Homo sapiens: one gene and its partners. The protein of the gene in region 2 purifies or fractionates together with the protein of the main gene of each other region. This does not show direct contact. Each region holds a gene or a part of one and is shown on either strand. Other genes may lie near its edges. The genes, in order: SUGP2, FAM83A and CEP97.

What was found.
Region 1: the proteins of FAM83A (region 2) and SUGP2 purify together in Homo sapiens (affinity purification with mass spectrometry; one large-scale study listed by BioGRID and IntAct). This does not show direct contact.
Region 3: the proteins of FAM83A (region 2) and CEP97 purify together in Homo sapiens (affinity purification with mass spectrometry; one large-scale study listed by BioGRID and IntAct). This does not show direct contact.

Annotation. Positions count from the first base shown.
Region 1 is NC_000019.10:19,002,413-19,006,063, forward strand, and holds part of SUGP2 (SURP and G-patch domain-containing protein 2), read right to left. Parts: intron 2,235-3,651; coding exon 1,756-2,234; intron 1,197-1,755; coding exon of another isoform or gene 1,102-1,196; exon of another isoform or gene 1,084-1,101; intron 1-1,083. UniProt on the Homo sapiens protein: May play a role in mRNA splicing.
Region 2 is NC_000008.11:123,189,046-123,192,696, forward strand, and holds part of FAM83A (protein FAM83A), read left to right. Parts: intron 1-2,757; coding exon 2,758-2,925; intron 2,926-3,651. UniProt on the Homo sapiens protein: Involved in mitochondrial maintenance during adipogenesis. May be acting by playing a role in the maintenance of normal mitochondrial function.
Region 3 is NC_000003.12:101,727,483-101,731,133, forward strand, and holds part of CEP97 (centrosomal protein of 97 kDa), read left to right. Parts: coding exon 1-59; intron 60-1,331; exon of another isoform or gene 1,332-1,353; coding exon 1,354-1,455; intron 1,456-3,651. UniProt on the Homo sapiens protein: Acts as a key negative regulator of ciliogenesis in collaboration with CCP110 by capping the mother centriole thereby preventing cilia formation. Required for recruitment of CCP110 to the centrosome.

The DNA of each region.
Region 1 (3,651 bases), on a different chromosome or scaffold from region 2:
ACTTTCTAGTGAAAAACAACCATGCTTCTCATATAGAGAACCACATCATATCATTTTATTCTATTTTTTATGAAAGGGAGATTAGCAAGTCTGTTTTTTTTTTTTTTTTTTTTTTTTTGAGACACAGTTTCGCTCTTGTTGCCCAGGCTGGAGTGCAGTGGTGTGATCTCAGCTCACTGCAACCTTCACCTCCCAGGTTCAAGCGATTCTCCAGCCTCAGCCTCCCGAGTAGCTGGGATTTCAGGAATGCGTCACCACGCCTCGCTAATTCTGTATTTTTAGTAGAGATGGGATATCTCCATGTTGGTCAGGCTGGTCTCAAACTCCCGACCAAAGGCGATCCTCCCGCCTTGGCCTCCCAGAGTGCTGGGATTACAGGTGTGAGCCAGCACACCCGGCGCAGGTCTGGTTTTTATCTCATCAACTACCCAAAGAACTGAGAGCTTCTAATGCAGAAATAAAAAACTCCACCTCCCCCCAAGAAGAGCATACATAACAAGCACTCTGATACACTACCTGCCATCCGTGACAAGTTTAATTATTTACTTCATTTTTTTTACATTAATTTTTTTTTCTTGTAAAGATTAGGTCTGGCCATCTTGCCCAGGCTGGTCTCAAGCTCCCGGGCTCAAGCGATCCTCTTGCCTCAGTCCCGCTAAGCTGGGATTACAGGCACGAGCCACTGCGCCTGGCCCCATGAGAAGTTTTGAAGGATGGTAAAGGTTATAGTAGAATGGTTAGCATTTCACTGCAACACCAAATTTTTCAAACACAAAACATGAGGACTATTCCAAAGCAGGAAAAACCATAAGGCCACTGTCACATGTAAATGTGACTGTCTGAATGATGTAGAACACACAGGTGACTGTTTAACACAGTCCCACAATGGGGCACCATTCACTACAACTTCACACATAGGTTTTGCAGCAGAAGTCCCATGTGAAAGCACGGTCCAGGCCTGACTGTGGGGAGACAGCTTGGAGGGCATTGGGGGCACAGGAGTCATCTGGGCCACGGCGTGCCCATCAAAAGGCCACATGCGATGCAATTCTATGTACTGACAGACTAGGAAAGATAGAATACCTGGGGCTTGGAAAACAGTCAGTGGTTGCTGAATCGGGCAGGGGACTGCAATGGGACAAGAGACCCGTTCTGGGAACAGGCTTCAGCTCTGCTGTACTGGTGGGTTCTCGCCTCTGCACAGTCAACAAAATTCAAATGGTCCACTTGAAAAGGGTGCGTTTCACTGCTGGTAAATTATACCTCAAGAACCCGGAACCTCCCCACAGGAGAGCAGGAGATGGCCTCTCATGGCCGAGGCAGGTCCCACTGACCACTGCCTGGGACCACCCCTGCTCTGTTCCCATCTCACTGTCATGACATGAAGCAGCTTATCAGCACCCTGGGCCTTCCAGGGGCTCAGAAGGGCCCCCAGCTGACAAAGTCACAGGCAGGAAAACAGCTGAGATGACCCAGGCCCATCCCCTCCACAGTTGGGGATGCCCCGACCTGAATCCAGGCAATCAGGGAAATGTCCAGCAGCAAGTAGAGTGCCAGAAGCCACAGGGTAGCAAGGAAACATGTCCTTAGAGCAATGCCTTCAGACCACTGGGAAACATGAGTGTCGGCTCACATTTTGGAGTGGTGCACAAAACTCTTTTGGATTAAAATGTCTCCACCTGTCTCTTCTAACTCTCACAGCCCACCAACCAAGAACTGTGCTAGAGGCAACTGTGCCGACAGGCGGGCACTCACCTTTTGGCTCCTGGATGAGACACACTCTCTTGGGAGCTGGAATCATGCCAACCTTCAATGACTTGCTGCTGATCCTCTTCCGAGGGAAGCAGGTACCTGAGGAGGCCTGTGACAAGGCAGGTGCTCCAGCCAGGTCGTCCTCGGCAGCCTCGCCGGGAAGGCCGTCGGCAGGGGTGCTGCCCTCAGACTTGCCCGCCCCTCCAGGAGCGGGGGCCTCCTCTCCCCCATCCTCATCGTCCTCGTCCTCCTCCTCAGGCATCACCTCTGGGCTCTCCAGCTCAGCCTCCCGCGGAGGGGGCTCGTCTTCAAACTCTGCTTCCCCTTCCATGAGGTCCACGGGGCTCTCCTGAGAACCCGTGGTGTCACCACCACCAGTGTGAAGGTTGTGCGGAGATGACGTGAAACAAATTGATGGACATAGTTCAAACACTTTCTTTCGATAGAATTTGAAAGCAGAACTATTTTGGTCATGTAGAAACCTGGGGCACAGAGGAAATACATTGGGTAACCAGATGGAATCTCTCAACATTTTTATTTGCTGAAACTGCTGGGATTGATCCAAGGAAGGTGGAGGTGGGACAAGGGAAAGAATAACCTGACCAGTCTCTACGCGGCTATGGCTTGATGGTGCAGCCTCTCAATGATAGAAAATTTGAGGAGTACTAGTAACTTAATAAGGAGCTAGAATTCAAGAAGCCTAACTGCTTTCCAGGGGACAGAGGCGGACGAACAAGGTATGCAGGGCTTGGGAAAATGCTGGAATAGAGATCTGGCTTGAGACCCATCTCACCCTTTCTGGTTACATCACTGGCCTCTCTGGGCCTCCATGTGCCCATTTTGACTCTGGTTCCTCCCAGGTATGAGAAGCATGGAGCGATGCCAGGAGGAGCTGCACAGTTACTGCTGGAACATGTGCACCATGGAACCGTAAGGTGCCCCCCGAGGAGGCTCCTCACCCCTAGCACTTCCCGCTCTGGGGCCTGCAGTCCACCTACATGGGCGTGGAGATGAGGCCTCTCTGTGCCTCAGGGGTCTGGTGGCCACCTCGACTTGTAACCACAGCTATGAAGCTGTGGCTGGTATGAGAAACTTGAAACACTCCCGAAAGCACCAAAGTCCACTTGGACCAAAGGAAAAATGGCCCTCGTAAGGCAACTCAACCTCATAAATGTGCCAAGTCCCCCCAGTTAGCATATTAATATATCCCAATAAAATCCCATTCTGAATCAGGGCAAGATGGTTCTAAAGTTCATAAAGAAAAATAATATGTAAGAGTATCTGGGAAAACTCTGAACAAGACTCATAAGGGGTTCCAGCCCCACCAAGCACTATAAAATGCCCCAAAGCCTCTAGAGTTAAACAGCATAGTAGTCCATAAGGCAGACCAAAGGAACAGAATAGAAAGACCAGAAACCCAGCATTTGATTAAGGTAACCTCTCAAACTACTACAAAAAAGGGGTGGGTCTTTCAAAGAATGGTATTGGAAAAGCTGGACGGCTTTATAATTATTATTACACATTTTTAGAGATGGGGTCTCACTCTGTCGTCCAGGCTAGAGTGCAGTGGTGTGATCACAGCTCACTGCAGCCTCAAACTCCTGGGCTCAAGAAATCTTCCTACATCAGCCACCCAAGTAGTTAGGACCACAGGCAAATGCCACTATACCAGGCTAACAAACACACACACACACACACACACACACACACACACACACACACACACACCACACACACACACCACACACACATACAACTAAATATCAGCAGAAACAAATGAATCTGGGCCGGGCATGGTGGCTCATGCCTCCCAGCACATTTTGGGAGGCTGAGGCAGGCAGATCACCTGAGGTCAGGAATCCAAGACTAGCCTGGCCAACATGGTGAAACCCCGTCTCT
Region 2 (3,651 bases):
TCAGGGAGGGAGGGAATTGTTTCTTTTGTCAATACCTTGGAAGAGGAGGCATTTATCTTTCAGCAAACAGGGAAAGCCTAAGCTGCTTTCAGTGCTATAAGGCTAAATGTGTGCAAGACAATTAATTGTGTGATTACAGGGCCATGGTTCTAATGATCACAGCCTCATTATTAGAACATCTTTTCCGATTTCCTGCCCAGGGTGAGCAATCTCTGAGGAGTTCCCTCCCCTGTCCAGCTATCCATCCACATCACAGAAAGTTGATTCCAAGTGGATACCAGCCATCAGTTTGGCCTGCCAGTAAGACACCTCTCTTTCCTTGGCTACTTCCCAGATGGCGGTGGTTTTAAAAAATATATTGCAATGATTAGAAAGATAGTGGAAACTTATTATTACAGGTAATCTTGAAGAAAGGGAATGGCCGTATTCCCTGTGAAAGGAAAGTATCTTTGGCCCCCAAAATCACTAAGGAAAACTCAAGCTGGAAACTGCTTAGGGCAAACCTGCCTCCCATTCTATTCAAAGTCACCGCTCTGCTCACTGAGATAGATGCATATCTGATGCCTCCTTTGGAAAGACTAATCAGAAACTCAAAAGAATGCAACAGTTTTTGTCTTACTTATCTGTGGCCTGGATGCTCCCTCCTGGCTTTGAGTCTTCCTGCCTTTGCTTCCAGTTGTCCCACCTTTCCAGATTGAACCAAAGTACTTCTTACATCTATTAATTGATGTCTCATGTCTCCCTAAAATGTATAAAATCAAGCTGTGCCCCGACCACCTTGGGCACATGTCGTCAGGACTTCCTCGGGCATGTCCTCAACCTTGGCAAAATAAACTTTCTAAATTAACTGAGCCCTGTTTTATTTTCTGGGTTCACATCCCCCATCCTAACATGACTGTTAGTTTTTGCTTTGGGCTTACCTACAATCATGTACGGAATAATGACATTTTGGTTACTAACAGACCACATCTATGACAGTGCTCCCATAAGATTATAATGGAGCAGGTGGGGTGGCTCACTCCTGTAATCCCAGCAATTTGGGAGGCTGAGGCTTAAGGATTGCTTAAGCCCAACAGTTCGAGACCAGCCTGGGCAACATAGTGAAACCCCATGTCTACAGAAAAAAAATGAAAGAGAGAGAGGAAGAAAAGAAAGAAAAGAAAGAAAGAAAGAAGAAAGAAAGAAAGAAAATTAACATTTTAAATTTTTATGTATTTTCTTATTTTTTTATTTTGAGACAGAGTCTCTTTCTGTCACCCAGGCTGGAGTGCAGTGGTGCGATCTCGGCTCACTGCAACCTCTGCCTCCTGGGTTCAAGCGATTCTCTTGCCTCAGCCTCCCCAGTAGCTGGGACTATAGGCGTGCACTACCAGTCCAGCTAATTTTTTTTTTTTTTTTTAGTAGAGACGAGCTTTCACCATGTTGATCAGGCTGGTCTCGAGCTCCAGATCTCAAATGATCCGCCCGCCTCGGCCTCCCAAAGTGTTGGTATTACAGGCGTGAGCCACCGCGCCCGGCAGTAATTAACATTTTTAATGACTGCCTAATAAGCTGCTTGTCAGTATATCACAATTAAGGTATTAGAAAGGACTCATGACTGGGTGACAGAGAGTAAACCCAAACAAGCTTAAGAAGAAGAGAAACATTCATTAACATCCACAGTGGAAAAGTCAAGGGTGGCACTGGTCTCAGGCATGGCTGGAACCAGGTGTCCAAATGACAATGCTGGGACTCTGTCTCTACCTCCTGGCTGCTTTCTCCAGGGATGGCTTCATTGTCAGGCAGGCTCTCCCCAAGAGGTAGCAAAAATGGTTGCCAGCAGCCATTGCTTATAAAATACCAGCTAAGCAACCTCGTAGAAAGAACACCTCCTTTTCCCAGGAGTCCCAGCTAAAGTCCTGGGCTGACTCTTATTAGAATAACTTAGATCATGTGACCACCTCTGGACCAATGTCTGTGGCCAACAGGGGATGCCATGCTCCCATTGGTCTAGCCTTGGTCATGTGGTCTCCCCATATCCAGTCAAAGAATGGCAATAGACCCTTCCAAACCACATTGATTGTGGAGGGGAGGCAATTACTTAAAGTCAGATTGGGATGCTGTTGACAGAAGAAGGGAGAATGAATGCTTGGCAGGAGGAACACAGATGTCTCTCCTGCTCACTGAAGGTCTAGAACTCCCCTCCCCAGTTTCTACTGTGACACATGATGCAGTAGCTGTGGGTAGAGCGTGACTCCCTTCTCCATCCCACGGGGAGCAGCTTGCTCTAGGCGCTTATATACGGTGCCTCCACATGGGATTTTGTTTGAGGATAGGATTCCACGGCTTAACAGCATTTGAAAATCAGTGGCCATAGTGTGCCCTCTAGCTCCAAGTGGCTGAGAATCCATAACCTTAACTTTATTCCTCTTCTGGAACCGGTTGAGATGCTTCTTCTTGTTCTTCTCTGCTCTCCTTCTCTTTCTAGACTTTTCCCTTCCTCCTCTGCACTCCCCACTCCCACAATGGGCATAGGGGCCAACAGATAGGTGGTGGGACTGGAGAGATGGTATCAGGACAGGCGCAGGGGCCTCCACTCCAGCTCTTCCTTTTCCTTCCATTAATCCTGCCCAGTCAGACCCACTCTACCCCATCCTCTCCCCTCTGGCCCAATGGGAACAGCTCTCCCAGGCCCACTGGGACTCAGGCAGTTTGGGTGAAACCAGTTAGCACCTGCCCCTGACCTTTCTGGTAACTGAGCACTCTGCCCTGGCCCAGGTCCTGGTCATCCTGATGGATGTGTTCACGGATGTGGAGATCTTCTGTGACATTCTAGAGGCAGCCAACAAGCGTGGGGTGTTCGTTTGTGTGCTCCTGGACCAGGGAGGTGTGAAGCTCTTCCAGGAGATGTGTGACAAAGTCCAGATCTCTGACAGTCACCTCAAGGTAGGGGCCCCAATGAGAGTCCTAAGGGTACTCATATTAGCCCAGATAGGATAGTCTATGCAATAGTAACAAATGTCCCTCATCTTGTGTTAATAGCTTAACACAATAAAGGTTCATTTCTTGCTCAAACAAACTCCTATGTAGGTCAGATGGCCCTCCTCCATATTGTAGCTACATCATGAGAAATACACGGCCTCTAAGATAACCATGACAGGGAAAGAGAAGGCTGGGAGACTCTGCAGGATGTTTCCAGGATCTGACCTGGAGGAGATTTCCATCGCTTTCTCTTATAACTCATTGACCTTACCCAGATGCACGGATGCTGGGAAATGTAAAGGGTCATGGGTATCTGGTGAGCAGCATCTCTGCCATGTACTCCAGTTCTCCTCTCAGCTGGGGAAGCCCAGGGATTGCATCTTACAGGGCAGGCAACCTCCAGGGTCTGTGGGTGCATGTTCAGAACTCCCTGGTCCCAACAAGACATTGATCCTCTTGGACTTAACTGAACCCCGTACTTCCCTCTCCTGGCAAAGAGAAAAGAAACCCAGCGATAAGGGTTTGATTCATCACATAAATTTGAGGACAACTAATTCAAATGTGAACACCACCCATAGCTTTCATGAGTAGGCCTGGGTGAACAGCTGATTGGTGGCCCTCAGAGTTCTTTTGATCAGTCTCCTCTAGTTCAGGCAAGAGAGGTTCTGTCCTCTGGGAGAACCTCCCAGA
Region 3 (3,651 bases), on a different chromosome or scaffold from region 2:
AAGGGCTAAAGGAACTAGTACATCTGGAATGGCTGAATTTGGCAGGAAATAATCTTAAGGTGAATGGTTTCTTTTTTGTTTACAAAACTATTCTGCGTAAAAAAAATTCAAGCAATGTAGAAATAAGTCAAATTAAAAAGTGAAAGTACCCACTCCCACTCTCCAGGGATAATCTCTGTTAAAATAAACTAAAAATAAATCTCATTTTGAAACATATAATATGACATAATATTCTTTTAAATTTGAACAAAGAATCTATATTGTACTTAGAAAAAAGTAGATCAAACCATAGAGTGTTTAGGAGGGAGACTATATCATGCTGAATTAAGCTTTAAGTAAATGTTTAATGCTATAAGGGAGAATATACAGTTTTAAAAGTTAGGAGATCTGAATTCTAGTCCTACTTGCACTACTTAGTAACTGTGTAATTTTGGGTAAATTAATACATATTTCTGCGTCTTATTTTTTGGCATGCTAGCTGAGAGGACTAGATTACCAATAGCTGCCTTTTATTGAGCCATTAATGTATCTGAGCTACTGTTCTAAACATTTATCTGTATTAACTTATTCAATCTCATGGTAGCCTGCGAAGTAGATATAGACATTATGCGTGTTATAAAGGTGAAGGAACTAAAGCACAGAAAAGTAACTTGCTCAAGGTCACACAGCTAGGAAGTTGCAGGGCCAGAATGTAAATCCAGGCTGTTTGGTTTTAATCTAAACTTGTAAACTCTATTCTATACCACCAACTGTCATATATTATTACTATGGTTTCTTTTGTTTTTTTTTTTTTTTTGATGGAGTTTTGCTCTTATTGTCCAGGCTGGAGTGCAGTGGCACGATCTTGGCTCACTGCAACCTCTGCCTCCTGGGTTTAAGCAATTCTCCTGCCTCAGCCTCAAGAGTAACTGGGATTACAGGCGCCTGCCCACCATGCCTGGCTAATTTTTAGTATTTTTTTAGTAGAGACAGGGTTTCGCCATGTTGGCCAGGCTGGTCTCGAACTCCTGACCTCAGGCTGTCCACCCACCTCGGCCTCCCAAAGTGCTGGGATTACAGGTGTGAGCCATAGCGCCTGGCCATTACTATGTTTTTTTTCAAGCTGTAAAGATCTTGGATGGTATGAACTACTTGGTAGCCCTCTACTCATAGAGAGATAATGAAAGTGTACGTTTACAACCTGACAATCTACTAAATTCTGTTAGTACTGCCCCTTTTCTCTTGCTAAGTTCTTCTACTCTGCTTCTAATAATAAGAGGAGGGAAGACACTCTTTCAGCTGCAAAGAACTAGGGAATAATTTTATTTTTTGATTTTGTTTTCATTAAATAGTGTGATGCTTTTCTTGTGATAGGCCATGGAACAGATCAATAGCTGCACAGCTCTACAGCATCTCGATTTATCAGACAATAATATATCCCAGATAGGTGATCTATCTAAATTGGTATCCCTGAAAGTAAGTATGTTTTCTTTGTCATTTGTGAAGTTTTATAGCAAAATACCAAGAGAAAGTAATCTTACTGACCTAAAATTAGCCTGCTTTGTATGAGCAGATTGCTTTCTTTATGATAAGAATTATGGGCTGGGCATGGTGGGTCATGCCTGTAATCCCAGCACTTTGAGAGGCTGAGGCGAGTGGATGGCTTGAGCTCAGAAGTTCAAGACTAGCCTGGGCAACATGGCAAAGCCCCATCTCTACTAAAAATACCAAAAATTAGTGGGGCATAGTGGTGCGAGCCTGTAGTCCCAGCTACTCAGCTAAAGCAGGATTGGTTGAACCCAGGAGGTGGAGGTTGTGGTGACCCGAGATTGGGTCACTGCACTCTAGCCTGGGCAATAGAGTGAGACTCAGTCTCAAAAAAAAAAAAAGGAATTATGTTAGAATACCAGAAATTAAGTTTGAAACTTTTTGTTGTTAGTTATATAACTCATTTATTTGATGTGAAACTGGTCATTGTAGTTAAGGTTAATTTTATTTACCATTCTCTGAACATGATGGAATTCCCTGTATGCCCAATCAACCAATATTAGTAACTTCAGTTATTATATAGTACATAATCTTTGGTGAGGTTGAGATTAATCATTCCTGAATTTGAGTCTGTCTTTATTTTTTTTTGAGACAGAGTCTTGCTCTGTCACCCAGGCTAGAGTGTAGTAGTACAATCTCACTCGACCTCCCAGGCTCAAGTGATCCTCTCACCTTAGCCTCCCAAGTAGCTAGGACCATAGGCATGTGTACATCACCACACCCAGCTAATTTTTTGAGTGTTTGTAGAGATGAGATCTTTTTCTTTTCTTTTTTTTTTTTAGATAGAGTTCTGCTCTGTCACCCAAGCAGTGGTGCAATCTTGGCTCACTGCAACCCAAGCAGTGGTTGCAGTGGTGCAATCTTGGCTCACTGCAACCTCTGCCTCCTGTGTTCAAGTGATACTTCTGCCTCAGCGTCCCGCGTAGCTGGGATTATAGGCGCCCACCACCACACCTGGCTAATTTTTTGTATTTTTAGTAGAGACAGGATTTCACCACGTTGGCCAGGCTGATTTTGAACTCCTGACCTCACATGATCCTCCTGCCTTGGCCTCGCAAAGTGTTGGGATTACAAGCGTGAGCCACTGCACCTGGCCAGAGATGAGATCTTACTATGTTGTCTAGACTGGTCTCAAACTCCTGGACTCTAGCAGTCCTCCTGCCTCAGTCTCTCAAAGTGCTAGGATTACAGGCATGAGCCACCGAACTGGCCGAGTCTGTTTTTTTGTTTTGTTTTGTTTTGTTTTGTTTTGTTTTGTTTTGTTTTGTTTTGTTGAGACGGAGTTTTGCTCTGTTGCCCAGGCTGGAGTGCAGTGGCGCAATCTCGGCTCACTGCAACCTCTGCCTCCCAGGTTCAAGCGATTCTCCTGCCTCAGCCTCCTGAGTAGCTGGGACTACAGGTGCATGCCACCACGCCCAGCTAATTTTTGTATTTTTAGTAGAGATGGCATTTCATCATGTTGGCCAGGCTGGTCTCGAACTCCTGACCTTGTGATCCACCCGCCTCGGCCTCCCAAAGTGTTGGGATTACAGGCATGAGCCACTGCGCTGGGTCCCAAGTCTGGATTTTTTTTTTTTTTTTTGACATTCAGAATTGCTGTTTTTAAAGTAATAGGTATTAGCTAATTGTCAAAATTAATTTCACTTAGAAAAAAACATGTAGCATGTAGCACTTTTTATGGAGGGGAATGTATCATGCAGTCAAATAAGTAACAGTTGAAATCACAGTCTTGAAAAACATGTAGAACATTTTAAATATTGTTGCCTCATTGGATATTATTACCATCAGATATGTTCATTAAGCCCTAGAAGCAGTATCTTAGTTCACTTTTTCCCAGATCTTTAGCAGAAATCATTTTTAGCAATAATTATTCTAAACATTTTGATGTAGCCAGATGTTGTCCTAATAGATGCTAAGAGAATTCAAATGAACCAAAGATGATTGAATTTTTTTTTTTTTTTTTGCTGGAATAGAAGCCTATTTATCTGATCAGAATCCTGGGTGTTCAGTTTTGGGTTTATTCTTGGTTGTTGCTGACTTAATGTGAGTCAGCTTTATCTGCAAGTAACACATTCTACCTCCCTTTATTTTTTAGTTACCTAGAGAATACAGTTGCAATTATGG